Homo sapiens: one gene and its partners. The protein of the gene in region 6 purifies or fractionates together with the protein of the main gene of each other region. This does not show direct contact. Each region holds a gene or a part of one and is shown on either strand. Other genes may lie near its edges. The genes, in order: ATP10A, ANP32B, DCAF4, FBXW8, CASP2 and NLRP1.

Region 1 (5,362 bases), on a different chromosome or scaffold from region 6:
CAACTCCAGTGCCTCTCTTCGAAAAGGCCATCCCTCATCCCTTCCAAAGCCCTCCGTGGGCTCTCATGGTTTTTCGTTCAGTTGCTGCAGCTCCATGACAACATCTTGTCCTCTCTAGCTCTCCGATGAATTCCTGTGCCTGGAACATTGCCGGGCATACAGCAGGGGATGAGTAAGTATTTGCCGAACAAGGACACTTACAGTGGTTCTCATGGCCTATAGCAGGCCCTTGTTAGAGCCCTGTGGTGCAGATGGCCAACCCAGAGTTGACCAGACCACATCAGAGCCTCATCCTCGCCCCAGCAGGCCAGGGTCTCAGAGTCCAGCTGGCAGAAGACACCTGAGCTCAAAACCCCTCCACGATTCCCCAGATCACACAGCTTGGAGACCTTTCCAGAGGTGAGCTGAGCTAGGCCTTCCTGGAAATCCTGACTTTGCACTGGGGAAGAGCAGGTGGAAAAAGATTCCAGACTTGAGGAGCATTGTGACTCACAGAATCTTGGAACCTTAGAGCGGAATGTGGATGGGATGAGTAAGGACTGTTCTGAGAAGGATAAGGAGACCTCTCACCTTGGGGCTGGGCCTGAACCAGGGAGGGGCTGAAGAAAATCAGCAAGCTGGTTCCCCTCAGGGCCTCAAGGGACCTCTGCCTGAGGAATCAGCATTTGGCTTTGTAAGCACCAGGAGTACTCCTGGAAGCTCCAGGGTAAGCAAATGGAATGAGGCGGTAATTACTTTGGCAACAGTGTGGACTGGCTGAAGCTGGGAGTCTGGTAGGCGCGGACACCCCTGGAGACTTTGGGCGAAGGGTCCACGGGGATGCCTGTGAAGACAGGAGGCCGAAGTGTAGGGAGGCCGAAGGCCTCGGGGGTCACCAGGTGGGCTGGTAGAGGAAAACACGGAGCCATGGGATGTGAGGCCTCAAGACTGCAGGCGCTGTGGGCCTTCATTTGCAGTTGATGCTCCGTTTGGGTTTCTGCTGGTTGACTGTGAGACCTGACTCCTTTCCCCAACAATGCAGACTTCAGCCAAACCTTTCCCTGATCTGGGCCTCTACATGTCAAAAGCCCACCCCTGTGACTGGGGGATGGGATTATTTTCTTCACACCTGTCACCACTCTACCTTCTAACACTGGGTTCTGGGCAACATTGTGGATGGTGGCAAAACTGGGCAGAGATGTAAGAATGTCATAACTGGAGCCGGGTAAGCCAGGGTGCTGGAGGGGAGGGCCTCCCCAAGCCAGGGTCCTGGCGAAGACGTGATTTGAGTCCATCCAGGGCAGTGCCTTGTTAGCAGGCACCCCCAGGAAGAGCCTGGGGCCACGGCCAACCGCCCAGCCACGGCCTCCTGGGCAAGAAATAACTGCTTCTCATCTCTGTACTTCTTGAGTGGGAGGCAAACAGTCACAGCCATGAAACATCTGTGGGGTCTCACTGCGGACGTGGGGGACTCCCAGCTCCTTTTTCCATGCCGTGCTTATTCTCCCACCCCTTCTCGGATGCCCCATGATGTGGAGGGGAGCCCTTCGCCCCACACTTCTGGGACACCCTCCTGACGCTCCCCTCTCCTCCCCACAACCATCCTCGCCTCCCCACAACCATCCTCGCCTCCCCCGCCGTCCGGGCCATGACAGCCACCTCAGAGCTACAGCGCACAAGGAGCGTTTCGGTCCTCATGATTTCCCAGGGAGGGAAACAGACACTCAAATACCTGCAAACCAAATTCTGTCTTTGCTATAGCGATATATTTCTCCTTTCCATGAAGAAAGAACAGAAAAAAGAAAAAGAATTTATTTAGGAGAGGAAGGAAAGGCAGTAATGATGATGGTGGAAAGGAAACGGTCTAGTTCGCCCAACAACGGAATCTGAAAGTGGTGGGGGCTGGGAAGTGGGGTAGGAAAGAAGTTCTTAGAGGCAACGCGGAATCGCCCTTCCCAGGGCTCCCCAGGAGCAGAGGTCCTGCGTAAAAAAGACTTAAAAATTGGAGCACTGGATGCCATGGATCCTTTGGATTTTGATTCCAGTTGATCCCTGGAGTAAGGTCCTAACCGGGGTCTCCCGAGGTCGTTTCGCCGTCCAGGATGGAGCAGGTCTGGCCCCTGGAAGGGCGCGCGGGCTGCTTGGGGACGGGGGCGCCTTTTCTCGCGCTTCGCGGTTTCCTCTCTCCTACTGCAGGCAGCGCGCGTTTGCAGCGTTTTGGGACCGAACTGATGCTTCTGGGAAACGAAACTAAACCTCTCTGAAGTTTCCAGCTCGGGCTTTTTTTGTTTCCCGCTATCCGGCGTGGCCCAGTCCGGGCGCGGAACGAGGGCGGGGCCGTGGCCACCGCGGCGGAAACGACCCGGGCCGGGGGCGGGCGGCGAGGACAAGGGGGCTCTGTGCGGCACCCGCCCAGCTTGCGCCCTGGGGACTGCGGCCGGGCGGCGGGGCTGGACGGGAGTGGACGGGGCTGGGCGCGGGCTGGGCGCGCTGGGCCGGCCAGGCGGCGCGCTGACCGCGGTCTCCGTGCGTCCCGCAGGCGGGGAGCTCGCACCGCCGCGCCCGGGCCGCGAGTGATGATAACCTAAGAGGCCGGCGCGGGCGGGCGTGAGCGGCGGAGGAGCCGGGCGCGGCGACACGCGGCCATGGAGCGGGAGCCGGCGGGGACCGAGGAGCCCGGGCCTCCGGGACGGCGGAGGCGCCGAGAGGGCAGGACGCGCACGGTGCGCTCCAACCTGCTGCCGCCCCCGGGCGCCGAGGACCCTGCGGCTGGCGCGGCCAAGGGCGAGCGGCGACGGCGGCGCGGGTGTGCCCAGCACCTGGCCGACAACCGGCTCAAGACTACCAAGTACACGCTGCTGTCCTTCCTGCCCAAGAACCTGTTCGAGCAGTTCCACCGCCCGGCCAACGTGTACTTTGTCTTCATCGCGCTGCTCAACTTCGTGCCGGCGGTGAACGCCTTCCAGCCCGGCCTGGCACTGGCGCCGGTGCTCTTCATCCTGGCCATCACGGCCTTCAGGGACCTGTGGGAGGACTACAGCCGCCACCGCTCCGACCACAAGATCAACCACCTGGGCTGCCTGGTCTTCAGCAGGTGAGTTGGGCGGGCGGGCGAGCGAGCGCGCGGTGGCGCAGGGCAGGGCGCCCCGGGAACTTGGTGTTGGGCACAGTGATTGGCAGGGGCTGGGTGCTTAGAAGGCAGCTCCACTCAGGGTGGAGGGCCCGGCTGCGCGGGACCCGGTGCCGACCGAAGCCACAGCGCCGCCAAGGCCTCTCTGTGCCTCCGCCGCAGCTAAAGGGGCGCCCTGGATGCGGGGACGCGTGGGGATCCCCTGTCACTCCGTGTCGGGGCCAGAATGATCCCAAGGCTAGAAACCGACGGCCGCTGGACATCCTCATCCACAGCCGCTCCCACCTGAAGTGAAAGGCAGGAAAAGCCAGCCTGGCCCCCTGGCCTGAAGTCCCTGCCTCAGTCTTCGGCCAGGCACAGTGGTCTCTGAACAGCCGGCACAGGACAGTAAAGCTCAGTCTGCTAACAGCTCGGCTCAGGACAGCAGCAAAGTGAAACTGCCGCCAAGTGCTGATATGTCTGGCACGGCCCAGGTACCAGGGCAGGGGAAATAACAGCAGTGTCCATCCTCCACTGTGAGCCATGAGCCGCGAGCCAGGCACCGCCCGGTAGCTGCCTGCCTAATTTTCTTCATCTTAACCTGCTTCCTGGGGGAAAGAGGCTGTGGGGTGTTTGTGAGCCCTGCCACGGGCAGTACCAGGGGTGACCCTGCGATGGACCACTCCTGCTCTTTTTCCCTCCCTGAGTTTTAGAGTCTCCGGCGGACCTGTCCAGAGGCCTGCGGCCTTTTCATCCTTTATGCTCTCCACCCCAGGAGAGCCCCTTGGTAGATCCATCTTGGAGCTGTGTCCAGCAGCCTGGACCACCTCAAGGCCCTGTCCCTGAGAAAGGTGGGTCGTCTTAGCTTTCCTCCAAAGCTCAGCCCATCGTTACCTCCTGCCTCACCTTGCTTGACCCCGGAACAGGGACTGAGATGGGCTTCTGAATAGAACATTAGCGGTATCTGGCTTCCATTATGCATGGGGAGACTCTAGGAAGCCCTATGCTCTCTTAGTGGCAGATTGTTCCCCTAAAAGAGGAGGGTCAGAGTGGCTCCTGCCTCTTAAACGTAGGCATTCACGAATGCCTTAGACACAGGCACTCATAGCTTGGATGAAGCCATGGATGCGTGCCTCTGTAGTTGAGTACCTTTCACCCTCCCAGCAACACTGCAGTGGTTATGCTCCATATTTTTGTAAACAGAGTAAACGGGTTCAGAGAGGTTAAGTAAACCTGCCCAGTGTCACACAGCAGCAAGGTCGTGGTACTGGGATTTGACCCAGGTCTTCCCGCCCGCACAGCTTTTTGAATATTTCTTTGCTCGTGCTTCTGAAACTTTTGTAAGAGTCACTGAAGGCGCTTGTTAAAATTACAGTTTTCCAAAGTGTCTCACTCAGCAGGCCTGGGATTGAGCCCAGGAATGTATTAGATTAGCGTGCACGTAACTCTTATATGATGGCCCACACTTTCAGAAACACCACTCTGCCTGCTCCCAAGCCTTGCTCTTTGGCCAGTCAGCAAGAGTGACTGTCATTAGACCGGGCTGTGGGATTTCCTGGCCCCTGTTCACCAGAAGCCTGAGCAGGGACAAGAGCGGCACCCCTTACACAAATGGCCTCCGTGTCCCCTGAGCGAGGCCTCCACCACATAGCCCTGGTGGGGCTCAACAGTTTTAAGCCTTTGCACAGATACCACTTCCTGTTATTACTGAGCCCGTAACTCCTGTAGCCTCCTTTTTAGAAATACTTATGCCTCAGGAGAAATACAGTTTATTTTCAGTTGGCAAAGTGCTTTGAATCCATTATGTCATTCGATCCTTATAGTAACTATCACACCCATCTTGCCGATGAGGAAACTGAGGTTGGGATCTAAAAGCTATTCTCTTGTCTCTGTGACCTTGTAAGGCTTCATGGGACTTTGAAACTTTAGCTTCCATTTGGACTACACCCATCTACGTTCCCCTCCCCTTCCACTCTGCCCTTGACTCCAGATATCTTAACTCTCCCTCAGACTCTGTCTTCTTCCTTACTGAAGGAACTGTCAGCATTTTTCATTCACTTCCCAGCTGCCTTGAGGACAGTGGGCGCAATGCCCTACTTCTGTTTATTGTTCCCTGGGAAGGCAGGTCAAATTCTTCCAGTCCCAGAAAGGCTGGAAGAGGTGGTGCCAGGCCCTGGGAATAGAAGGAGGAGGAGGCTGGTTTCACCCAGAGTTTACTGTAGGGACAGATGGCACCATAGGGCATGTCTACCAGGTGAAGTCCTGGGTGGGGCT
Region 2 (4,751 bases), on a different chromosome or scaffold from region 6:
TTCATTCCTTCCCCCAGAGGGCCAGAACTTACCTTGCACAGCCAGGAACCGTACTAGTTTGAGTTCAGTAGGCATTCTATTTAGTAGTTATTTAAAGCCAGACAAACACTAAATTAACCAGATTCATATTGTAAATGTATTCACAGGTATACTAATTTCTTCAAAAGGTGTTTTTTCTTTTCTTTTGTCATCTTTTTGAAACCCCCACTTTTGTTGTAATTACAAATAGGAAGCAGGGTAGAAAACAGCTGCACTGACCTCCTCACTGACTTCATCGTCGTCCTCATCCCCTTCTACATCTTCATCTTCATCATCTTCTTCATCAAACTCCTCTTCTTCACCATCCTCATCGTCCTCGTCTTCCTCATCTTCTCCTTCTAAAAATAGTCCAAAAGGGATTCATTAAATATCCTCGACGCTCCACAGGGGACAAAGTGTTGAGGATCTGTGGGCTGGCTCACAGAACAAATGCTGTAAGGCCACGAACTGCAGTCACTTTCTTTCTACTATGTGCTACAGCTCAGTCCCTTTGTCCGATAGAGTCCCATAAAATCAGAGAGCTAGAAGTCCTGGTAGATAAGACAAACACTATAATTCTCGCTGATGAAATGATACAATGGCTAAGATTTGCTTCAAAATTATATGGAGTGGGGAAGAAGGTAAGGGTATGCAGGAATAAAATAAGATCAGCTATGACCAATAATTGCTGAAGCTGAGTGATAAGAACATGGGGGTTCATTTTGCTATTATTTTTACCCTTTGTCACTGTCTGAAATTTTTGACAGTAAAAAGTTAAAAAAAAAAAAATCATGTACCTTCTCTTGGGTATCATTACCAGAGTCACAGTCAGCTGCTCAAATCAGGAACCTGAGAAACACCCATAATAACCCTGTGACTCAGGGGACAGGAGGCTGAGAGGCACCTGCATCTCTAGCTGGTTGTTCGGACCTCTAGTGCGGCAGTTCTTGCTTCTCCTGGGTCCTAGAGCACACCATGCTCTCACCTGCCTCCTGGTCTCTGCATGCTCTTTCCATCCTCTTTGCTTGGCTAACTCTGACTCCACCTTGGAGTCTCAGTCAACATCACTTCCTTAGGCAGTCTTACTCACCAGACCTCCCAATGCCAGGTCATAGGCTCTCACCATGAGTATGTGGTGCTTCTCCATTACAACACACTTTGCTTACTTGCAATTATTATTTAGAATTCTTAATTTAAAACAATTTTTTCTGTACAGATAGGGTTTGTCTATGTTGCCCAGGCTGGTCTTGAACTCCTGGATTCCAGCAATCATCCTGCCTCACCCTCCCCAAGTGTTGGGATTACAAGTGTGAGCCACCATACCTAGCCTATTTATGATTTAAAAAAAAAAAACAAAAAAAAAAAAACACCATTTCTCTGTAAGGTCCAAGAGGGTAGGAACCTTGTTTTTTTGTTCCTTTTTTTTTTAAACCACTATTTTCCGCAGTGCCTGGCACATAGGAAATGCTCAAGTATTTGTTGGCTGACCCATCTTTGCTCTCAGGAACTGCCCCCCACCTTCCAAGGAATGTCCTTTACTGGCTCTTGCACATGTGGCTGTTCTTCCTGTTTGAGGTGAACTTAAATAGACAACAAGCACAAATGGTTTTTAGGAAAAATGGAAAAACTGTAGAAGGGACAAAGGGACATAACATTTGGAAATAAGTGAGATGTCCTATTCTCTGTCCATTTTACCACCTTATAACTCATTAATTTTTGCCTGTCTCAATATGCTTCAAAATAAAACTGTAAAAATGCTTCCAGAGAATTATACCATTAACTGCACCCAAACTCCTTGATGCTTTTCCTCCTCTATTTTCTTGATAATTTCTGTCATATGTGCTAATTTTTAAAGAAAAGAAATACTCATGCTGACTGATGTGAAAACTAATCATTCTGCTTCCTCCAAACCAGGGGTTCCCAACTCCCAGGACTGGTACTGGTCTGTGGCCTGGGCCGCACAGCAGGTGGTGAAGAGCAGGCCAGTGACCATTACCACGTGAACTCCGCCTCCTGTCACATCACCTGTTAGATCCTCATAGGAGTGCAAATTCTATTGTGAACTGCGCATGTGAGGGATCTGGACTGTGCATTCCTTATGAGAATCTAATGCCTGATCTAAGGTGGAACCGTTTCATCCCAAAACCATTCAGCTGCCGCCCCCAACCCCTTCCCTGCATCTGTGGAAAAACTGTCTTCCATGAAACCAGTCCCTGGTGCCAAAAAGGTTGGAGACTGCTGCTCTAAGCCACCTGTACGTGAGAAGCGTTTTATTCTAAGAGTGACTGAGAATAAACAAACTCAGCATGCAAAGAAAACACAAACTAATCAGGAGGAATATCTTGGGTAGAAAGTATTAGTTATTTCTTAAAATCTGTAAATCTGTAAAATATGTATAAATCCTGGGTCAAATGCCAAAACTACTGAAAATCATCTTTTAATTCTATGTTATGATCAGAGATTATTTCCCTTATGAATGAAAAACGGAATCTAACATATAGTTATTTGAAATCATTACCTTTTAAAACTCTGGTCATATGTCAATGGAAGGGAAAGCTATTTTATTTATAGCTGGCAATAACAAACAGGTACCAAGTACCTACTCAGTGTCAGGCCCTGTGAATCAGGAGATAAGTATCTACCCAAGATGATGACTGTAGTGCAGTAGGACAGCGGTCCTCAACCTTTTTGGCACCAGGGACCAGTTTTGTGGAAGACAATGTTTCCACAGCCTGGGGGTGGGGGGATGGTTTCAGGATGATTCAAACGCATTATGTTTATTCTGCACTTTATTTCTATTATTACATTGTAATATATAATGATATAATTATACAACTCATCATAATGTGGAATCAATGGGAACCCTGAGCTTGTTTTCCCTGCAACTAGACAGTCCCATCTGGGGGCAATGAGAGACAGTGACATTCGAAGTGTGTGCTGCTTATGTCCAGTATACTCCATAATCTTGTTTTGGTTGCTGTCACTGCAGAAAACTTTGCTTCACAAAGATAGGATATTGGAAATGGAAGCAGGTTTTTCAGTGCTTTTTTGGCAATCTCAGGATATTCCACCTCGACTTTAATCCAGAATATATGGAGATTTTGAAGTTGTCTCAAACCATACTTTTAAGGCCACTGCCATTTGTGATCTCAACCAGTTGATCCTCTTCAAGCATGAACAAAGTCGATTGACCTGGCTTATTCATAAATGGGTTGTGGATCCATTCCTTCCCAGTTCGGGGGTCTTTTGTGGTTGGGAAGTAATGCTCAAACTCTTTTGAGAGCTGAGATAGGTGATCATGCACCAGCTGTGAGAAAGAAGGCCCTGGCTCACTCTCTTTCAAAAATCACTCCTACTGTTTGAAACATGTCAAAAATCCCAATGCTCAGAACAGAAAACTAAGTATCGTATGTTCTCACTTGTAAGTGGGGGCTGAATGATGAGTATACATGGACACATGGAGGGGAACAACACACACTGGGGCCTGTGGAGGCTGGGGACGGAGAGCATCAGGAAAACTAGCTAATGGACAGTGGGCTTAATACTTAGGTGATGGGATGGTACACGTTTATCTCTGCGACAAACGTGCACATGTACCCCTGAACTTAAAAAAAAAAGTTTTACCACTCATTCTGTGTTACTAAAATGTTCTGCTAGTGGTGACTGTTATTCTTAGAGAAATCTCTGGAGCAGGCCTCTTAACTCAAAAACTCTGGCCAGTGATCCACCTTTAGAACGCCATCTCGCTTCTCTGTGTAAGAGAAGTATTCTCTGCATCCATCTCACAGAACTGCGTGAACAGACATGGGTTAAGGGCATGTACTTTAATGTGGTTAATTTTAATCACATCCTGCAAAACGTTAAGTTCAGGTGACATTTGTCAGCTAGCCAGCATTTCTCTATGGATGACACAGTGCATAGACTCACATCCAGAAGCGACCTCTCTGACTCGAGTAGTGAAACCAGAAAGCCGTCCAGCCATGGCAGCCGCTCCATCTGTGCATATACGACACAAAATGACCAATTCAGTTTTCCTGATATGTAATCGTTCAAAAGACTTGAATAGTTCTGCAGCTGTGGTGCTGGTTGGCAACGAAGTACACATAACATAGTCTCATGCACATCCTCCTGAAAATATATTGCACAAAAACAAGCATTGTTGCCATGTTGTCAACATCGGCAGACTTGTCAACCTGCAATGTGTACCACGGTGACTCATCAATCCTCTCTAACAACTATGCCTCAATATCCTCTACTATGTCATCAATTCATCTAGTTATGGTGCTAGCTCAAAGAGGAACATGTGCCACCTTTTGAACTGCAGCTTAACTGCAGCCTCTCCTAAAAGTTCATGACAAATGTCCTTAGCAGCAGGCAGGATCAACTCTTCAATAGTAAAGGGCTTCTTACTTTAGCAATGCAGTTAGTTAAGGGCTTCTTAGCTTTAGCAATGCAGTTAGCCACTAAGAATGAGATGTTCTCAGTGCAGTCACATTTGATGAAGTGGGAGCTTTCAATAATTGCCTCTGTTTTTCACGTTCATGTTTATTTCTTTTGAAAAACTCCAAAGGCTTGTCTTTTAAACGCAGGGTGCTTGGTCTCCAAGTGGTGAAGCAGTTTTTTTTTTGTTTGTTTGTTTTTTGAGATGGAGTCTTGCTCTATCGCCCAGGCTAAAGCACAGCGGCACAATCTCGGCTCACTGCAACCTCCGCCTCCCAGGTTCAAGCAATTCT
Region 3 (4,751 bases), on a different chromosome or scaffold from region 6:
TTGGTCCCAAAGGACTGCCGGTGTCCCGTCACCACGTTGGTCAACAGGACCCGCCGAGACAAGCCTGGCGGAGACAGAGATGGGCTGGTAAGATTATGTCACATGTAGTCTGGGGAGAGGGACAACTACATGGGGTTTTAAGGCCTGTTAAGGCCTCTTCTCTGGGCACCTGGGGAGCCAGGCTCACCTGTACTGAAGCAGTTATTTGCTTGGATATTCAGGGACCAGGCACAGGACCAGGCACCAGGGATCCGGAAACTGCAGAGCATGCCAGGCCGGTCTATTCCTGCTAAGGGGATAGGAGAATGTAAAGTGTGGCTGCCTTCTAGGCAGGCCAGGGACCACTGGGTTCGGAAAACATCCAAATATGCCCATAGCTGCTCAGAGGGTCTATACCTTTGGCCCCATTCTGGGTTTTGTGGTTGCAAGAGAGACTCAGCTGGGATGCCTGGCTCACAAGTGGTTATTCCGAAAATGCATCTTTGTTAACGTTCCCAGTAGTCGTGTTTACAGTACGAATAGTACTGATATCAGGGAGGTAGTATACTGTTGGAGGTAAGGTGGCTCCGATCCTCGATCACCTACCAGCTATGTGATCTCAGGCAAGTGTGTGTGTATATACACACACACACACACACACACACACACACACACACACACACACACAAATAAATAAATAAATAAACTATATATATATATATATATATATATATATATTTTTTTTTTTTTTTTTTTTTTTTAAGACAGGGTCTTGTTCTTTTGCCCAGTCTGGAGTGCAGTGGCGTGATCATGGCTCAATGCATCCTCAACCTCCCAGGCTCAAGGAATCCTCCCATCTCAGCCTCCCAAGTAGCTGGGATCACAGGTGTGAGCCACCACACATGGCTAATTATTTATTTTTTGTAGAGATTGGAGTCTTGCTATGTTGCTCAGGCTGGTCTTGAACTCCTGGGCTCAAACGATTATCCTGCCTTGGCCTCCCAAAGTGTTGAGATTACAGGCATGAGCCACTGTGCTTCGAAAAAATATTTTTTAAAATAAACTTTTGCATTGATAGAACGTACAGATTGTAAGGATACAGTTCAGTGAGTTATCACAAACTAAATATAGCCATGTACCCACCACCCAGGTTAAGAAATAAAACAATCCATGCCAGGCGTGGTGGCTCACGCCTGTAATCCCAGCACTTTAGGAGGCCGAAGCGGGTGGATCACCTGAGGTCGGGAGTTCGAGACCAGCCTGACCAACATGGAGAATCCCATCTCTACTAAAAATACAAAAATCAGCCGGGTGTGGTGGTACATGCCTGTAATCCTGGCTACTTGGGAGGCTGAGGCAGGAGAATCGCTTGAGCCCCAGAGGCGGAGGTTGCGGTGAACTGAGATCGTGTCATTGCACTCCAGCCTGGGCAACAAGAGTGAAACTCCATCTCAAAAAAAAAAAAAAAAAAAAAAAAAGGCCGGGCATTGTGGCTCACACCTGTAATCCCAGCACTTTGGGAGGCCGAGGCAGGTGGATCACGAGGTCAGGAGTTCGAGACCAGCCTAACCAACATGGTGAAATCCCGTCTCTACTAAAAATACAAAAATTAGCCGGGCGTGGTGGTGTGCGCCTGTGATCTCAGCTACTTGGGAGGCTGAGGCAGGAGCATTGCTTGAACCTGGGAGGCGGAGGTTGTGGTGAGCTGAGATCGTGCCATTGCACTCCAGCCTGGGCAATAAGAGCAAAACTCCGTCTCAAAAAAAAAAAAAAAAAAAAGACAAGACAAGACATAAAACAATCCAGTACCCCAGAGGCCTCCCTCACATCCCTTTCCCAATTACTACCTCCCCAAAGGGTACTGTGAGCCTGACCTCCAACACTAAAAATTACTTTTGTAAGACAAATTCTGAAACTGTCTGCCTCAGTTTCCTTATCTGTAAAATGGTGGTAAGACACACTCCTGCCTCATAAGCTTGCTGTGCAATGAAATACCAGGCACTGGGCTAAATGTGCATGATCTCACCTAATTCTCCACGGATGTGGACTGAGAAGGCCCTGTCCACTTTAGAGAGGTTCAACATTCCATTCAAGTTGGCAAGGGGCAGAGCTGGGATTCGTGCCAGGTCTGCCTGAAGCCCACACTCTTAAGAGGCCTCTCACCCTGGTCTTATTGATCCTAATTTTCTGATAGACTGAAATGTAATATCCAGAATGCTGTCAGGAAGGAGGAGTCAAATTGCCTTAACGTAGGCAGACTGTTAAGTATCCCTGATAGCACCTGAGGTGCTTTGGACCTTCAGAGGTGTTTTCTGAATGATGTGCACGGGCGTCCGAATCTGTTCTGAGCTCACGCTGGTTTACATGCGTGTTAAGTCTGCTCTGGCTGCTGAAATGACTGAAATGGCCCAAGATGGGTAAAAAGGGGCAGATGCTGTAAAAAAAACACATGCTTCTGGTACTAACCCTGGGACAGGCTTAGGGAATCCTCCCACAGTGCCTCTGCAGCGGCCCCATACTTCTCTCTAAGCCACCCCCACACAGCTCTCGGGAGACAGAGGACAGATTTCTTTAAAGGAGGAGAACCCTGTACCTGGGTGACTATTGACGAACAGTGATGCTGGGAGCAGGGTGGCACAGCCTGGAGTCTCTGCGAGTCCCATGAGGCATAGCCTGGAAAAAGCTGTTAAGGACAGTTAGGCACAAGGCTCCCCTCTGGGAGGAGGCATGGACATTTACCCTTCAGAAAGTCATACGGCACACAACCTAGGCCAGAGTAACCCCCACCGTCCAGATTCAACATGCGTTTACACTGCCCACATTTACCTTCAGATGTTTTTTTTTTGTTTGTTTGTTTTTGAGACGGAGTTTCGCTCTTGTTGCCCAGGCTGGGGTGCAATGGCGCGATCTCGGCTTACCGCAACCTCTGCCTCCCAGGTTCAAGCGATTCTCCTGCCTCGGCTTCCTGAGTAGCTGGGATTACAGGCATGTGCCACCACGCCCGGGTAATTTTGTATTTTTAGTAGAGACGGGGTTTCTCCAAGTTGGTCAGACTCGTCTCGAACACCCGACCTCACGTGATCCGCCCGCCTCGGCCTCCCAAAGTGCTGGGATTATAGGGGTGAGCCATCGTGACTGGCCAGCTTCAGATGTTTTTTAAAGGGAAAAACAAATCAGATATAGTTAAAAGCTGGGTGTGGTGGCTCCTGCCTATGTAATCCCAGCACTTTGGGAAGCTGAGGCAGGAGGATCACTCGAGTCCAGGAGTTCGAGACCAGCCTGGGAAACACAGCAAAACCTTGTCTCTACAAAAAATACAAAAACTAGCTGGGCGTGGTGGTGTGTGCCTGTAGTACCAGCTCCTTGGGAGGCTGAGGTGGGAGGATTGCTTGAGCCTTGGAAGTCAAGGCTGCGGTGAGCTGTGATCATGTGACCGCACTCCAGCCTGGGTGACAGAGTAAGACCATGTCTCAAAAATAAAATACTATTAAAAAGCCCAAAAAGCCCTCTCTGATCCCTCCCTAGTCCAATTCTCCCTTCTCCTCTACTCAGAGAGAACTGCTCTTCTCAAATTGGTGTAAGTTCTTCTAAGCCATGCTGTATTTCCACTACATATATTTGTCAATAAATAACACAAAGCAGCTTTTGTTTAAAAAAAAACATACAGAAATGGCATTGCATGGAATATCTCACTACCAGCCCTTAAAATTTCTGCTTATCTGAATGGGTACCAGGTGATACCTCACTGTTATTTAAATTTGCATTTCCCTGACTACATGTGGGTGTCTCTGTTCACATGAGCATAGTCGTTGGAGTTCCCTCTCTGACCTGCCCCTTTATACCCTTGCCTACGTGTGTGTCTTTTGACTGACGCGGTTCCTCTCCTTTTCCCCTCATAGCCAAACTTTGTTCCAGAGGAGCCTGTATTTATTCTCATTCCCTTGCCTTTCCTCCACTGAAATCCAGGCCTGACCCTCACCTTCCCAGAGAAATGTTCTCATCAGTCTTCAATGAGCCTCTGGTTTCTAAATCTGATGGAAACATTCCAGTTCTGCCCTATGGCCATGTAGCCCAATTTCTACTACACACTCCTTGGCCTCAACCCACCACTCTCTGGGAGGTCTATCCTGGCCTTCTCCTATCACAAGATGCCCGGGCTAGAGCCTGCACCTGCCTCTTGGTGCCCTTCCCTCCACTCCTGATACCTCGTTTCACGCCCTCACCACCGCCCTTAGTCTTGCAGCAGCTTCTGTCTGAGGACTTGCTCTCGTCCGTCTATCCCCCAACAATGCCACCAAAGGAATCATTTTCAAAAATGACTCCACAATCACAACCCCCTGGGACCTCCCACAGCCCTGAGCGAGCATTCAGTCTTGAAAGGCCCTGCTCCCTAGCCAGAGACATCATGAATATCAAACTGCTGCCAAACATACCAAGCTTTCTCCCAACTCCTCCTATTAGGGGTCCCTGGCCTCTTCCTGCCCTCATGGGTCTCCCTCCAGGAAGGTGGCTGCAATCCCTCCTGCATGCAGCTTTCCTCCTACACTGAGGACTTGTGGAGCTGCCTGTCTCTATCTCCTTGCAACTGCATATACTCGATAGGTGTTGTCTGAATGACCACACATATTCCTCACTGGAAAATGTAAATATCTGAAAAGCAATCATGTAACTTTTAAAAATCTTCTTAAACATTTTATTTTTATATACATTTTTTGAGATGGAGTCTTGCTCTTTCGCTCAGGCTGGAGTGCAGTGGCGCAATCTTGGCTCAC
Region 4 (4,751 bases), on a different chromosome or scaffold from region 6:
ATTCTATACCTAGCTTAGCTACCAAGTGTGAAGGCATAATAAAGAAAGACTTCTTTTTCTTTAACAGAAAAGGACTCAAAGTGAACTACCTGTGGATACTCTCTGAAAGAAAGTGGCATAGCAAAATACCAGAACAAGAAGACAGATGGCTTAAGTGGGACCTGGTGTGTCTGCTGGGTCCATGGAGGCACACAGGACAAACCTTCCTATTAACAAGAAGAGCTGCCCATGGATCACAAAGTAAAAATATATGCTATGCATGAAAAACACATCTGTAAAGGAGGATGAAAAGATGTTGCAATTTTAATGCTAGAAAAGGCAGAGTAGTTCAAGGCAAAAGCATTCACTGAGAGCACTTAAAACAACGAAGGGGCAGTTTACTCAGTGTTCGGTCAGACCTGGAAAAACAAACTCCATGGATCACATTTCTTTTTATAGGTTTTGTTGTTTATTATTTTTTTTAAAGACAGGGCCTCACTCCCATCACCCAGGCTGGAGTGTAGTGGCACCATCATGGCTCACTGCAGCCTCAGCTTCCTGGGCTCAGGTGATCCTCCCACCTCAGCGTCCCGAATAGCTGGGACTACAAGCACGTGCTACCACACCAGGCTAATTTTTTTTTTATTTTCAGTAGAGACGGTTTTGCTGTGTTGCTCAGGCTGGTCTCGAACTCCTGGGCCAAGGGATCTACCCACCTCAGCCTCCTAAAGTGCCGGGATTACAGGCATGTGCCATTGCACCCAGCCTGTTTTTTTTTTTTTTTAATAGTTTCTTTAGTCACTATAATCTATTCAGAAATTATTTCTATTTCTTGAATTTTTAAAATCTCCAAATCTGAAAACTTAGATGAGTAAATGGCTTTCTGGGAAAATAAGAATTATCAAAACGAATCCCCAGGAGACAGAAAATCCAAGTAGATAAAATAACAAATAGCAGCCTGAGGAAGCCAGCAAGGGGCAACAATCCCTGCAAAAAAAGAACAAGTGACTTTGGCCAGACCTGTTAAGGACCAGCTGCCTCCAGGGCTAAGTTAACTGTTCCACAGCCTAGGAAAAGGAGGAAAGCTTCCAAATTCTCCATGAAGCCAGCATTCTATTACCAAAGCCTAACCCTGAGAGCATGATCAAAGAAAACTACATATCCGAGTGAAACATCAGGAACAGACTCCACAGCAAGATGCCACAGACAAGGGGAATCAACGAAAAACCAGGCAGTCACGTCCATGGAAGCCGAAAGCAACGGGATGAAACGTCACAGCCATTCCAGATGTGGTCTTTAGAAACAGTGAGGCACTGGCACCACCATTACTTCACATCGCTTTTTAAAAACCAGACACAATTAGACAAAAGGAAAAAATGAAAGGTTAAAAAAAATCGGAAAGAAGTGGGTAGACTTCTTATCAGTGAGAAGGGACAGTCCCAGAGAATTCAGTAACACAGAGTCAAATATAAATTTATATGCTAAAATCTAGTTTAAAAATAAATAGAATCAAAGAAAATGTCCCATTTGTAACAGCAGTTAGAGGCAAAATACTCTATAATAATTTTCTCAACTTGGAGCTCTATCAATCACATATATTACACAAATTACAGAGAGCGCAAAGAGTTAAACATAAACTATAAAACATATTCAAAGGAGGAAGACCTTTCTAAACATAACAAAATATGGAAGGTGAAAAAAGGGTTTAACTTTTTCCTATTGGGGGGAACAATCAGAAAGTCAGTCCAATGATAAACTGAGGAAAATGTTTGCAACAAAAAGGGCTAATGTCTTATAATAAATGCCTTCAAATTAGTAAAGACTGACAACCCATTATTAAATCGACAGAAAAGATAAGAAAAAGCAATTCACAGAAAAATACTAATGGCTTTTAAACATGTGTAAGATGTTTAAGTTTGCTGGTAATCAGATAAATTACACAGTAAAACTACAATGCAATGCCACTTGTCACCAATCTACCCAGCAAAGGTAAAGTTTGGTAACATGCCCTACGAGGCACTGTGTGGCAGGGAGACATGGACAGGTAGGTACTCCTAGACAGCTGAGGCGAGCAGAAATCCTTCTCTGGGGAGTGACTTGGCAATATCCAACCAAATACCACATGCACCTCACTTCTGAGCCGGCAATTCCACTTCGAGGAGGTAGCTACACAAGAGTCCACATACACGCAAGGCCAGTCACTGCTCTTAGTTGCAAAAGAGGCTTCTGTTTCAGACAACATGTTGACAGTTCCACTGTAAAACGCTTAAAAATGCTGGATAAAATCCTTTTAAGGGCACTGCTGAGCTCACGTAGGAAGTGACTTCCCCAGGACCTGAGCTGAAAACCAGACAGGAGAGGGTGAGCTGCGACTTCAGGGGAGGGGAGGCTGCTGGCAAGCGCCAGGCTCAGCTCCGTGGTTTCATCAAACACACTGAAGGGCCACCCTAGGCAGGGAGCGGAGTATGGAGACTCCTGCTTTCAATACAAAAGCATGAAAGTATAGTCCCTGAAATTAAATTTGGGAGATAGGCTGGAAGCAGATCAGAGAATGCGTGAATCAGAAGAAAAATGTGAAGAAATTACCAAGAATGGAGCACAAAGAGATAAATATGAAAACTGCGAATGGGGGTATAAGAGACATGAGGGACAGAAGGGGTGGTGCACCACACGCCCCAAGTTCCGGAAGGAGAAAAACAGAGTGCGGACAGCTAACAGCTGATGTTTCCCGAACTGATGAAAGACATGCATGCCGACTCAATGCACACGAATCAAACACAAAATACATATCTAAGAGTATAATTTAAAAAATGGGGAAACACAAAGACCAAGAGGTCCTAAAAGCAGCCTGAGAGAAAAAGACATTACCTATTAAGGAAAGATAATTAGACTGACAGGAAAAATCAGACACATTTTAGCTGTCATGAACTGGAATGACGTAGGTGACACGATTAACTAGCTCTTCAACTGAGTGCTAGTTAAAGCAATTATGGTACATCCATACAGTGGGACCCGGGGCAGAACTACACAGGCTGACTGGCAGCCGTGCGCACAGGTGTGTGCTGGGGGACATGCATTTAGGCTGTGCGTGTGTGGGCGGCCCCCAGAGAACGCTCAGCATTTAAGCAGTCGCAATGAGGGAGGCTGACAAGGCTGCTGGGAAGAGGGGTGCGCTTCGCCCTCTAGGCTACTCTGCTTTTGAGGCCCATTTTGAATGTGCGTACTTCCTGTTTAAATAAAACCAAACAATTTTAAAGATCAAATTCTGGAAGCACGTACTTGAAACATTAACAACAATTACCTTGGAGAAGAAAGAGGGCAATAAAGGCGGCTTTTGTGTTTTATTCTGGACGCTGCCATGTTTAAAAAACAAGAATTCATTCATGACCGGGAGGCCTTCAACAGTCACACTCTCTTTCTTGAGCTGAGAGGTGGATGCGCGGGCATTCTCGGTTACTCTTGAAACTGTATGCGCACCTTATATACACTCCCATACATATGTTCGGTTTCATAATTAAAAAATAATACTTTCATCTATTTCTTAGAAAAGGTGAAATAAAACAGGATGGAACAACACGTCGTTTTAGGACACAGAGGAGAGACTGTTTCTTCTTCCTGCTAGGCCATGTAACTGACAAGGCAACCCAAGTGAATAGATATACTCAACGCTGGGAAACAGGTAGCACAGCAAATGGGCACCAGAATATGCCAAGACAACCGATTCCAGGGACAAGTTGAGAGTTCTCTGTATAGAGAACATAAAATTCTATGTGGCCAACATTAACAAGCCCTTCGGACTGGCCACTGAACCTTTCTGGACCAGCATTAGATGGTCTTGAAGAGGTCTGCTAGATCCAAAATTCTGAGATCCATAACAAGTCCATCCAGTGGACACAGATGATAATGTATAGATGATACATAATAGGTCCGTTGCTACAAATGCTGCTCAGTCCCTGACTTGCCAGTGAGGGATCTGGGAGCAGAAAGATGCAGAGAGAGCTTGAAGATGACTTTGTAAACAAAGGTCTCTCTCTGTCACGTTTACAGACACCTATCCTTAGGCATGCGTAGGTAAGAGAAGAGAAAAAGTATAAATGCTGTAAAGAGAACTCTAACCTTAGTCCATAATGGGAACTTGAAAAGGATTGGGGAAAGGGGGAGCGGAAGTGTTTACCAAGTACTTTTCAGTGCATATTTGGTTAATCAGAGTCTATTCAGCTATGGTGATTTCCATAAAGAGCTCCTCTGTTGAATATTTATACTCCATAATTTACAGTTTGGCTGTTAAGGAGACAAAGGCAAACACAAATTTGGTCCAGAAGTTCAAAGTTTGCCATCTGTTTTCCTATTGTATTTAGATACCAGCATGGATGGCTCCAAACAAAATAAACAAATAAACCAAAAGATGCGGCCTCAGTGTATTTTATATCACTAAGGAAAAAAAAATAGGCCAAACCAGCCTTGAATTTCTCCCCCCTGGGAAAAAGGAAAAACATTTTTCTGACATCTCCTTAGAGAAGCACCACTCTGGCTTCTCGTCGACAGAAACAGCAGACAGCACAGTGTGCTAAGTCCACCCAAGCCATTCAGATTCACATGAAGAAACAGGTATCTGCCTCGGACATCTGACAGCGCGCAGCACAGGCCCGAATGCCGTGCGCCTTGGCAAAGCCCGTCGTCAGCTCAGCACTCAAACCAAATACTCGACGCTGGGAAACAGGTAGCACAGCAAATGGGCACCAGAATATGCCAAGACAACCGATTCCAGGGAC
Region 5 (4,751 bases), on a different chromosome or scaffold from region 6:
AGGACCAAAGCACAGGTTTAATAAAAATGTGTCAAGCAACTGCCATGTGTTGGGCACTGTCTTACTTTAAGGCCTAGGGATAGAGTGAAGAGAAAATTCCTGCCGTCATGGAGCTTACACTCCAGTTTAGAAGCTGACTGGGGCAGGGGGGTGGAGCTTTTTCTAGACATTAATTATATTAACCAAATACAGCAGGAAGACAGGTGAACTCAAATTTTCAATGGAACAATTGGCTACTGGTCATTCCTTGAAGGATTTAATTTCAGAAAAGTTAGAGAGACAGAGCAAAAGATCCAGATTACTCCAGAAAAGAGCAATTACTCCTTATCCAGATCCAATAGTGTATTAAATCCCTGGATATAGGATGAGAAAATCACAATTTAACGTCGTTTTGTTAGTAAAGACGCCTAAAGGAAACAGGCCAAGCTAAAGAGAAAGGAGAATTCCTCTCTCACCTTTATATCACAGATCCATCAATCAATAAATGTCACTGGTTCTTTTGTCACAATATCCTCATATTTGTTTTTTACATAATACCTACAGTTTTTCAGGCAGATTAATTTTCATCCATTCATTGAACATTTATAAGTGCTACCATGCATCAGGCAGTGCCCTGGGCCTGGGGATAGAGCAGGGAATGAAAAGTAAAGTTGCTGACCCATAACCTCTTTCCTTAGTGCAGCCCCCTCCATGGCAACCTTGCTGGAAAAACAATTCATCACATTATTTCTTACTTAAGCTCCCAACTGTTCCTTACTTTTACCTGCTGATGTCCAAAACCTCAGTTATGACTAAAGGTTTGTAAGGAGGTGAACCCACTTCATTGTGACCAGCCACATCTCACATACTCACACAGATGCTATTTTAAAATCAGATCCGAGCATCTGTTTGGGAGGAGGGGAGACACAACATGCCCTCTGCCTCTCAGTGTACTTATCATATTGTATTGTTTCTTTCCTACGACAGACTCTAGATACTACTCTATAACTATGTAAATCAAATTACTCCAGGTACAAATTAAGCCTTATCTTATCTAAAAAATCTCTTTAAACTACCCTCACTTAAAATGATCTACTCTTACTGCATACTCCTTCCTAAGTACAGTTTGTACCTTGCTAATTTCACCTTTGCTTACATGAGGCCTGTGAACTAGTCTTAAGCTACTTCATGTATATTTACTTTATTTTCCTGAGTAACTGGTCTGCTCCTTAGAGAGGCCACATTTCCTTCTGCTTTTGCGGTAGTAACTGCCGTAGTCTGAGTCATGTTGCAGGGCCTCAGCAGACTATATTCTGCGGTAATACTAGATCAGGATGACAATAATATTAGCTATTTACATTTGGCCACATGAGAGATTAAAAAAGTAATTATTTGAATGTTTGGACAAAGTGACCTTTAAAGCAAACTATAAGCCCTTTACGGCACTGATCGTGTTTTAAGAGTTACAGCTGGCATATTTTGTGGATGTGCTGTGAGCCAGGTACTGAGCTATGTAAGCCCTTAAATGCATAATCTCATTTAACCATCACAAGCACCTTATGAAGTAGGTACAAGGACTATTTTCATTTTATATTGAGGAAACTGAGATGGAGGGATGCCATTTAACTTCTTTAACTTCACGTTACTAGTAAATGGTGAAGTCAGAATTTGACTCCAAAGTTAGGGCTCTTAATTACTATTATTTTCCTCCAGGATGAGAAGCACACCTATGTGTCTTTTAATCCTCGTCCTGCAGTCCTGGCTCTTAAAGGAGTAAAACAGACTGCATGAGAGAAAGAGGGGCAGCAGCAGCTCACGGAAAAGGAAGAGTCAAAGGCCAACACGGATTCTGTTCTGCTATCCTGCATGACCCAAGAATGGTAAGAAGAAAGAAGAAAGGAGGCAAGCATGGAAGTGTAGGTAAACAGGGAAGTATATGGAACAAGTGAAAAGAACAAAGAGTGAAAGAAAGGAGATAAAATAAGAAGGACAGGAAAAAGACAGATCAAAAATCCGTAACTGGAATGAGTAACCAAAAAAAGGGCACCAGAGTTAATGAAGCACAGAAAAGAGTAAGAGTTCTCAGAAAGGAAGGCAAAGACACGGGATAAGAGACCTGAAAACAGGATATGGTGGTGCACGGAGAGCTGACCAGCCTGAGAGCCATGGGCTGCCCAAGTCCCAGCACACCCCATGCATTGGGAGACACTTACAGAGCAAGAGAGGCGGTGGCAGCAGTGAACAGAAGGAGGTGCCCAAGGGATCCAATAGCACCTGAGAGGAGCAAACAGGAAAGTGAGAGCTGGTGGGAGGCTGCCCAGGAGCCACCACCCAGGTGCTGGTCTGCTAGGGCACTCACCTCCACGGCAGGCCTGGATGAAGAACATTTTTGGTTTGTTCTGTAGGCTTGGGCAGTTGGCGTTGTCAAAGAGCTGAAAAACCTCTTGGAGCTGCCAGAAAGAAAGAAGGAAGAAGAGAGGTTAAGCATTCAGCGGGGCCTCCTAAGTCCTACACATGCAACAGTAGCCATCACTTGACAGACAGCAGGCAGGAGGTAAAGCAGCCTGGTTTCAACAGTTGGCTTCCACCAGGGTATCCGCACCTGGAGCAGTTTCCCATCCACACCATAGATGGCGCCCTCCACACCATGCGAGAGGAGTGCCACGATGCAGGAGTCCGTGACTCGGTGTGCAGGTAACTGTGCAAAATTCTGCAGTTTCTCTTGCATTTCCTAAAAGAAAGGAATGTTTAGTGTTGTGCACTAAGGTCAGCACCAACATAAGCATCAAAGTTTGGTTTCTTTTTGAAACCCTAAGCTATTAGAAGATAAAACGCTTTATGTATATTCCTGTGGTCAATGATAAAAGAAGAGACCTTTTGAGAGACTAAAGAAAGCTATGGACTCACCAGAAAAATGCATATGAGTTCAGACACAATATTCTGAATACAGATTCAGACTCACTGAGATAGGCAAACAGCTCCTGGATTAAAGCAAGTTACTAAAGAAGCTAATCATGAGCTGGTCAACTCTGATTAATTCCCTGTTCATAACCAGATCCTTCATTAGAGCAACTGCCCTTGTATATAAATGGCACAAGGGTGACTCAAAGTGTAGCTATGAATAAGTAACATGCACATTCAGCTACACGAAAATAAACTGTTCTGTGACAGCATCATGATAGTAGAGAATAGCAATACTTGTATGTTGTCTTCTAAGATTCTAAGTGTCCAAGAGATAATGATGATGACTGTATAAAATGCTTTGTTTCAGAAAGAGCACGCTATGAAGGAGGATTCTGTACAGGGCAGTAATTACATACACAGGTCCTGGGTTCAGATTAATCTAGGTTTGAACCTTGGCTTCATGAGTTGGAACAGCTTACTCAGACCCTTGAGACCTCACTTTTCACTTTATAAAAAAAAATTATGAGGATATTTTCTCTAAGTTTGTGAAGATAAAAATGAGATATTATGACAAAGGACTTGGCCTGGACAACCTAGCAAGACTCCATCTTTAAAAAAAAAAATTAGCCAGGCATGGTGGTGCATGCTTATAGTCCCAGCTACTCTAAAGGCTACGGTGGAGGGATCACTGGAGCCTAGGAAGTTGAGGCTGCAGTGAGCTGTGACTGCACCACTGCACTGTAGCCTGGGTGACAGAGAGAGACCCTGTCTCAAAAAAAAAACCAAAAACCGATCACTGTGTCTGGGACACATTGCAAAAAATGTGCCATTACAATGTGCATGTCGAATAAAGAGTATTTTTCTCAAAGAAATCTATTACTGGTCAATGTTGTAGTCCAACTTAAGAACTGTTTTCCTGTTTATCTTTTTTTTTTTTAGACAGGATCTTGCTATATTGCCCAGGCTTGAGTGCAGTGACTATTTACAGGTGTAAGATCACTACTGATCAGCACAGGAGTTTTCACCTGCTCCATTTCTGACCTGGGCTGGTACACCCCTCCTTAGGCAACCTGGTGGTCCGCCACTCCCAGGAGGTTACCATATTGATGATGAACTTAGTTTGGACACCTGATCAGCATAGCACACTACAGCCTAGAACTCCTGGGCTCAAGGAATCTTCTTGCCTCAGCCTCTAGAGTAGCTGGGACCATAGGCATGTGCCACCATGCCTGGAGAATCTTGTTTATCTTGCACTAAGTTGCGATACATGAAGAGCACTACCTTAAGCATTTGGTCCATCCATCAGAAGGTTATACTGTGTACCTAAAGAGCATAATAATTGGGCACACATGTTTAAACCTATGCCTCCCTCTATAATTCACGATGTCTGGGTCTTCTGAGATGGGCAGAAAGAAAACAAGTTCATTTTATTATAAACTTGAATAAAATGTAATGAAAATAAGTAAGTTATCTGGGTGGAAGAGTTAAAACACACATATATTTAATCACACACACTGCCAAAATAAAAAGCACACTTCTATAATATAACATATTGCAGTAGTTCTCAGAGTGGCCCCTAAAGCAGCAACAGCAGCATCACCCAGGAACTTGGAAGAAACGTGAAATCTTGGGCTCCAGCAAAATGTGTTTTAACAAGCCCTCCAGGACACTGTGATATGTTAAAGTTTGAGAGCTACTAATTGATCTGTTCGGAATACTTCTGTTTGTAGATAATTGAGATGCAATTACATAAAATATTTGAAAGTCTGCAATATAACTAGAAATAAAGAGACTGGTGTTGTTGAAAAGTATCTGTATTTTCTAAGTAGAAGCAAACCATAATAATAGAAATCTTAAGGTAATGACAG
Region 6 (5,271 bases):
TGCTGGGTGCAGAAGAAATCCTTTTAACTTAAAACCTCTCAGATTTCAAAGGAGGCATCCTCCGGCATTGAGAGGCAGCATGGTTCAGTGGTTAAGGAACCTGTGGCATCAGGAGCCTCTGTACCTGTGGCTTTAGTATGACTGTCCTTATTGCCCAGATGAGGGCACTCCCTGTGTAAGAGTTAAAAGTGTGGATTGCTGCGTGAGAGAGAGTGAAGGCTGAATTCCATCTTTGCTAGTACTAACTGTGAGACTATCTTTTTAATCCTTGGTTTTCTCATCTCCAGGGTATGATAATAGCAATATTTATCTCACGGAGTGGTTGTAAAATTTAAGTCCAATGTACACGTAAAGCCCTGGACATGGTCTAACCCAGAGAGTGTCCAGTGAGCACTGATGGGCATGGGACTAGCTGTAGGCCACTTGTGGGGTGAGGAGCTCAGTGGAAATTGAACCCAGCTCTCCTGACCCCAGGCCAGTGCCCTGTCCAGTAAACCAGGTGATGTGTAACCCCATCCAGGCTCCCCTCTCCTTGCTCTGTTGTCCCCCAGATGTGCTGGGTAACACATCTGTATTTTAATGTCCAGGTGCCTCCTGGAAACAGTGCCTTGGACCAGTGGAGAGGCTCCAAGGGTGGGATTTCCTGAGGGAAATTTCAGATGTTTTCCAGAACCTCTGCTTAGCCTGCCAACCTGGTCCCCAGGGGACTCTTTGTCCATACATTTGCCTCTCCCACCTCACCACCCCGCCAGGAGCTCAGTAGGGTCTCACCTGTGTAGTAAATTCCTGACGTTTCATCCAGAGGCCATTGGGTCCCAGGAGCCTCCTGCTCTCTGGGTGCTAGGCTGGGCTGAGGTGGGGATCCCCAGCTCCCCAGCACTGCTGTGGATGTGGGGGCGTTGGGTGACTCCTGGCTTGGAGACTCATGGTCTGGGGAGCTTGGAAGAGCTTGGTAGAGGAGTGAGGCAGAGATTTCTGGGGGGAATGAAAAGAAAAATAACCATTTACTGAACATTTATTTTCTTTTAGGTGCATATATTTTAAACTCTCACAACAGTCCTGAGAGATGGGTCTTAATAATATTATTTTGAAAACCATGTTGAAGTAGAGGGGCAATTTTATTCTCTTAGTAGTGAAGAGAGAAGTCATGTGAGGGAGCTGGCTTGGGCCGAGGACTAAGCCTAGCCTCTTCTTGGGGTCTGTCTGGAAAACAGAGTCCTCCTTGGAACTTCTGGACCACCCTGACCCTAAGGATCTTCAGAGCCCATCAATATTATGAGCTGAGTTCTCGGGCAAGGACCATGTCACGAGTTGGGCACCCAGTTGGGGAAGACTCATTGCCTGACCCACATGGGTCTCAGCTTCCCCATCTGCCACATGGGGAGGGATGCAATCTCAGCACCGGAAGGTCCCTGAAAGATCAATTTCAGGCCTACCTCTCACAGCCCATCCTGGCTCCCCTATCCTTCCTCTGCTGTCCCCCATGTCAGGTCCCCATGCACAGACATGATCCTCTGGGTGGGGCCCACCAGCTGATTCACAGCTCCACCCAGGGCTGTCAGCCTGCCTCAGCAAGCCTCACCTCTCCAGCGGCGTCCAGATGTGTCAGGCAGCTGTCTCAAAACCCTTCTCTCTGAGCCCTGGGTGCACCCCGCCGGCAATTCATGGATCCAGGGCATTAGCACTGCGGTGGAGGTGGGTTGGCTGGGAGACCCCAGGTGGGGTTCACTTGGGCTGTAGGGGAATGAGGGAGAGTGGCCTACAGGAAAGAGACAAAGAGGTTGGAGACACATCAGAGGGGCAGGGGCAAGGTGCCAGGGAACTGAGCTGGTCTCCTCTCTCAACCAAGAGAGGTCAGGATACACCAGTGAACCCGCTGCAGCCCTCTACAACTTCCTCTAGAGGCTTGTCTGAAGAATGATGTTCTTATAGATACTGCTAGGCAAAAAATCCTCATCTAGGATCAGGAAATTTGCATATCTGTCTTGGTCCTGACTATCTCCCTGTGTAAATCACTACTCCTACTGAGCCTCAGCTGTGCTTTATTGGGCCAACGGCATCTGCAACCCAGGGTGGCTAATAGTAATAATAACAGCAGCAGCAGCAGCAGCAACAACAGCAATGGGAGATCTTATTTATTGAGCACTTACTGTATATCAGACTCTGTGCTAAATGTTTAACCTGGATGATCTCTTTTAACCCTCACACAGCCCAGGGAGGCGGGCTCTCACTCTCCCATTTTGCAGACAGAGAAATAGGCAGAGAGCAGTGAAGTGATTGGCCCAGGGTGATAGTGCCAGGACTGGTGATAGTGCCTGACTCCCAAGTCCGTGCTCATAACTACAATGCCAGGCGAGTACCGGGAATGCACTTGAATAGAAGAGGGTGTGGGGCTCTGAGGTGCAGCAAGGGCCCCCCCAGCAAGCCTCCTGGCTCCAGCATAGTCTGGGGCCTGGATCCCCCTTTGAGAGGGCAGTTCCATGTCACTGCTCAGAGGAAGGCCTGGCAGGGAGGGCTCAGTGGTGGGGTCCCAAGAGGGCAGGGCAGGCATGAGGGCCAGGGGATGTCCCGCGGGCAGTGGGGTCCTCTGTCCACTCACCTGCCCCTTCCTGGGCTTGGGCGCACAGTGACCTCAGCCCCATCTGCTCCCAGGTATGGAGGGCTAGGTCCCAGGCCCGCTGCTCCCCATACTGAGCCACCAGGTACGAGGCCACCTCCATGCCACTCGTCTTCTCTGGCTGAGCGGGTGTCTCACCCGAAGAGCTCCTGGAGTGCGCTTTATTGGCGAGCAGAAGCTGGAACTCCTTCAGCTCCTCCTTCTTCAGGAACTCCAAGTAACAGGCCAGGCGGCCCCAGGCTCCGCCAGCCATCTCTGTCCCGGAGTTAAGAGGGTGTCTGGGGGATGTTCCCAGGTGGTGAGGGTATCAGGCAGGCAGAGAACAGTGCTGTCCTTTGCCTTGGCTCTTACCGTCTCTTATTCAGCATTCGGAACCCAGTTTTATAAATCCCAGGGCACCTACAGATAGACGCCGATAGAGGGGGAGTGGTAGGAAAAGCCAGGGGAGGGAGGAGCCCAGAGGGGCCTGCAAGACACTGGAAGAAGTCAGCTGATAGGGAGGTCCTGGGATGGGGTCCAGGGCCAGGCAGGGAGGGTGAGGGTGAGGGGAGATGTGGTGACGGGAGATGGGGTGTGGGCAACGCTCACTGTTCTGTGTTCCTCAGATTCTTCCCTCTCCTGGGTCCTGGACTCCTGAGATCAACCCTTGAGCTGCAAGGCTGAGAAGAGGTGGGGTGGGAGGAGCCGCAGAGCAGGGAATGGGCTTTCAGAACCCAGAGTGGAGCCCCGGGCTGCTGGCTCCCAGGTTTCTTCAGACCTCTCCAGGCCCTGGGGCACCAGCCAGCAAGAACAGCGCCTAGTCAACAAGAGCAGGAAGGAAACGTCACCCAGAGGAAACCCACAAGGGGCGTGGCCAGGGGGTAGGATCAAACCAGGCCTGGGTAGGCCAGACTCAGAGTCACAGATTCAGATGGGCCACATGGCATCTATAGGCGGACCAGGAGCACAGGCCCAGACCAGCTGACGCTGCAGCAGGTACAGGCCCATACTAAACACGGTGTGTGCACCTCCACATGGGCACTCCGCCAGCCCATCATCTAGAGCCTGTCTGCAGAGCCAGGATGCAGACTCTCCGAGCAGTTGTGTCTGCAGCCCAGGCCCAGCCTCTCAGGATGGGTGGGGCCCCCTGTGTCTGCCCGGGCAGCTCCTTATTGGGAAACATTAGAACTGGGCCAGGGAGCATTTTTCCCAGCCTCTCATGGTTTTGGGAGCTTCTTGAGTTGCACTGCATGTCCTGCCATGCTACCAGGGGCACTAAAGCATGTGTCCCAGGCCCAGGGGGCTGTTTGCCTTCTGGGCAGCCCAGCACTTAGCTGGTGAACATTTCCACCTGAAAGCAGAACAGCCCCTTCCTCATTCCTGCAAGCAGGCCTCGGGGAGCCAGGGGCAGACTTCCTCTTTCGTGGAATCTGCAAGATGCCAATGACTTCAGGTTGAGGAATGACATTGCCTACTCATTTGCTGATGTAACACACCACCAGGAATTTCTGGAGATGCTTTGGTTTCACTTGGACTGGCAGAGCCCAGGCTTCAACCCACGGCTTGCTTGGACAAGGACTCCTTATGTGCCTGATTTATTTCTTTGAGCCTCAGTTTGCCCATCTATTAAATGGGACATCATAGGTTTACCAAGAGGCTTCAATTCAGCAAAAGGTCTTAGAGTCTCTCTCTCTTTCCCAGGCTGGAGTGCAGTGGCAAGATCTCGGCTCACTGCAAGCTCCCTCCACCTCCTGGGTTCCAGCGATTCTCCTGCATCAGCCCAGCTTCCTGGGCAGTTGGGATTACAGTCACTCACCACCACGCCTGGCTAATTGTTTTGTATTTTTAGTAGAGATGGGGTTTCACCATGTTAGCCAGTCTGATCCGAGGTGATCCGCCCACTTCGGCCTCCCGAAATGTTGGGATTACAGGTGTGAGCCTCCGTGCCTGGCCTAAATAAATTTTATAAATGTTAGTTTTAAAAAATGGCTAATAAGCACATTGTAGGACATTCTAATATCAGATTGACCAGAAGTGGAAAAGTGCTGTGCTAAAAGTGGGATGATCGGGAGGCTCTGAGCACTCCGTGAAGGACCGTGAGACTCCATGTAGCGGGAGGAATGGCCTGGAGGAGGGCTGTGTGGGCTTTTTTTCCTCCTCACACCAGCCAGTTCTGGCACCAACTCTCTAGACACCAACTGGTGTCCTACAGTGCAATTCTGACACTGACTGCCTGGAGTTGGCATCAAACCTCACAGGTTTAGGGTTTCAGTGAAGAGCTGGCCTCATATCAGATGCCAGTTGCAAATGGGGTGCCCAGACCACTGGCATCTCTGTCTGACTTGGTGACAAATTCAAGGGTTCCCACAGTCCCCGGCAGGTTCAATAATTTGCTGAAATGACTCACAGGACTGAGAAAAGCACTTTATTTATTATTATCGGTTCATGATGGAGGATACGACTCAGGAATAGCCCAACGGAAGAGATGCCGAGGTCAAGGTGTGGGTGGGGGAGGGGCACAGCGCTTCCTTGCCCTCCCGGGCACCCTACTCTCCCTGCCCCTCCCTGCTTCACTAACCTGGAAGCTCTCCAAACCCCAAACAAACAAGACTGTGGGGTTTTCTCGGAGGTTTCACTTCACAGGCATAATTCATTAAATCACTGGCCGCTGGAGA

The links.
Region 1: the proteins of NLRP1 (region 6) and ATP10A purify together in Homo sapiens (affinity purification with mass spectrometry, with the first as the bait; one study listed by BioGRID). This does not show direct contact.
Region 2: the proteins of NLRP1 (region 6) and ANP32B purify together in Homo sapiens (affinity purification with mass spectrometry, with the first as the bait; one study listed by BioGRID). This does not show direct contact.
Region 3: the proteins of NLRP1 (region 6) and DCAF4 purify together in Homo sapiens (co-immunoprecipitation; one large-scale study listed by IntAct). This does not show direct contact.
Region 4: the proteins of NLRP1 (region 6) and FBXW8 purify together in Homo sapiens (affinity purification with mass spectrometry, with the first as the bait; one study listed by BioGRID). This does not show direct contact.
Region 5: the proteins of NLRP1 (region 6) and CASP2 purify together in Homo sapiens (affinity purification with western blotting, with the first as the bait; one study listed by BioGRID). This does not show direct contact.

The regions. Positions count from the first base shown.
Region 1 is NC_000015.10:25,860,359-25,865,720, reverse strand, and holds the start of ATP10A (phospholipid-transporting ATPase VA), read left to right. Parts: upstream 1-2,393; 5' UTR 2,394-2,624; coding exon 2,625-3,073; intron 3,074-3,411; exon of another isoform or gene 3,412-3,939; intron 3,940-5,362. UniProt on the Homo sapiens protein: Catalytic component of P4-ATPase flippase complex, which catalyzes the hydrolysis of ATP coupled to the transport of phosphatidylcholine (PC) from the outer to the inner leaflet of the plasma membrane.
Region 2 is NC_000009.12:98,006,897-98,011,647, reverse strand, and holds part of ANP32B (acidic leucine-rich nuclear phosphoprotein 32 family member B), read right to left. Parts: intron 378-4,751; coding exon 259-377; intron 1-258. UniProt on the Homo sapiens protein: Multifunctional protein that is involved in the regulation of many processes including cell proliferation, apoptosis, cell cycle progression or transcription.
Region 3 is NC_000014.9:72,949,699-72,954,449, reverse strand, and holds part of DCAF4 (DDB1- and CUL4-associated factor 4), read right to left. Parts: intron 2,653-4,751; coding exon 2,573-2,652; intron 290-2,572; coding exon of another isoform or gene 287-289; coding exon 188-286; intron 65-187; coding exon 1-64. UniProt on the Homo sapiens protein: May function as a substrate receptor for CUL4-DDB1 E3 ubiquitin-protein ligase complex.
Region 4 is NC_000012.12:117,018,368-117,023,118, reverse strand, and holds part of FBXW8 (F-box/WD repeat-containing protein 8), read right to left. Parts: intron 1-4,751. UniProt on the Homo sapiens protein: Substrate-recognition component of the Cul7-RING(FBXW8) ubiquitin ligase complex, which mediates the ubiquitination and subsequent proteasomal degradation of target proteins.
Region 5 is NC_000007.14:143,297,882-143,302,632, reverse strand, and holds part of CASP2 (caspase-2 isoform 1 preproprotein), read right to left. Parts: intron 4,117-4,751; exon of another isoform or gene 3,821-4,116; intron 2,711-3,820; coding exon 2,582-2,710; intron 2,430-2,581; coding exon 2,339-2,429; intron 2,254-2,338; coding exon of another isoform or gene 2,193-2,253; intron 1-2,192. UniProt on the Homo sapiens protein: Is a regulator of the cascade of caspases responsible for apoptosis execution. Might function by either activating some proteins required for cell death or inactivating proteins necessary for cell survival.
Region 6 is NC_000017.11:5,581,088-5,586,358, forward strand, and holds the start of NLRP1 (NACHT, LRR and PYD domains-containing protein 1), read right to left. Parts: upstream 3,423-5,271; 5' UTR 2,871-3,422; coding exon 2,600-2,870; intron 1,760-2,599; coding exon 1,583-1,759; intron 976-1,582; coding exon 772-975; intron 1-771.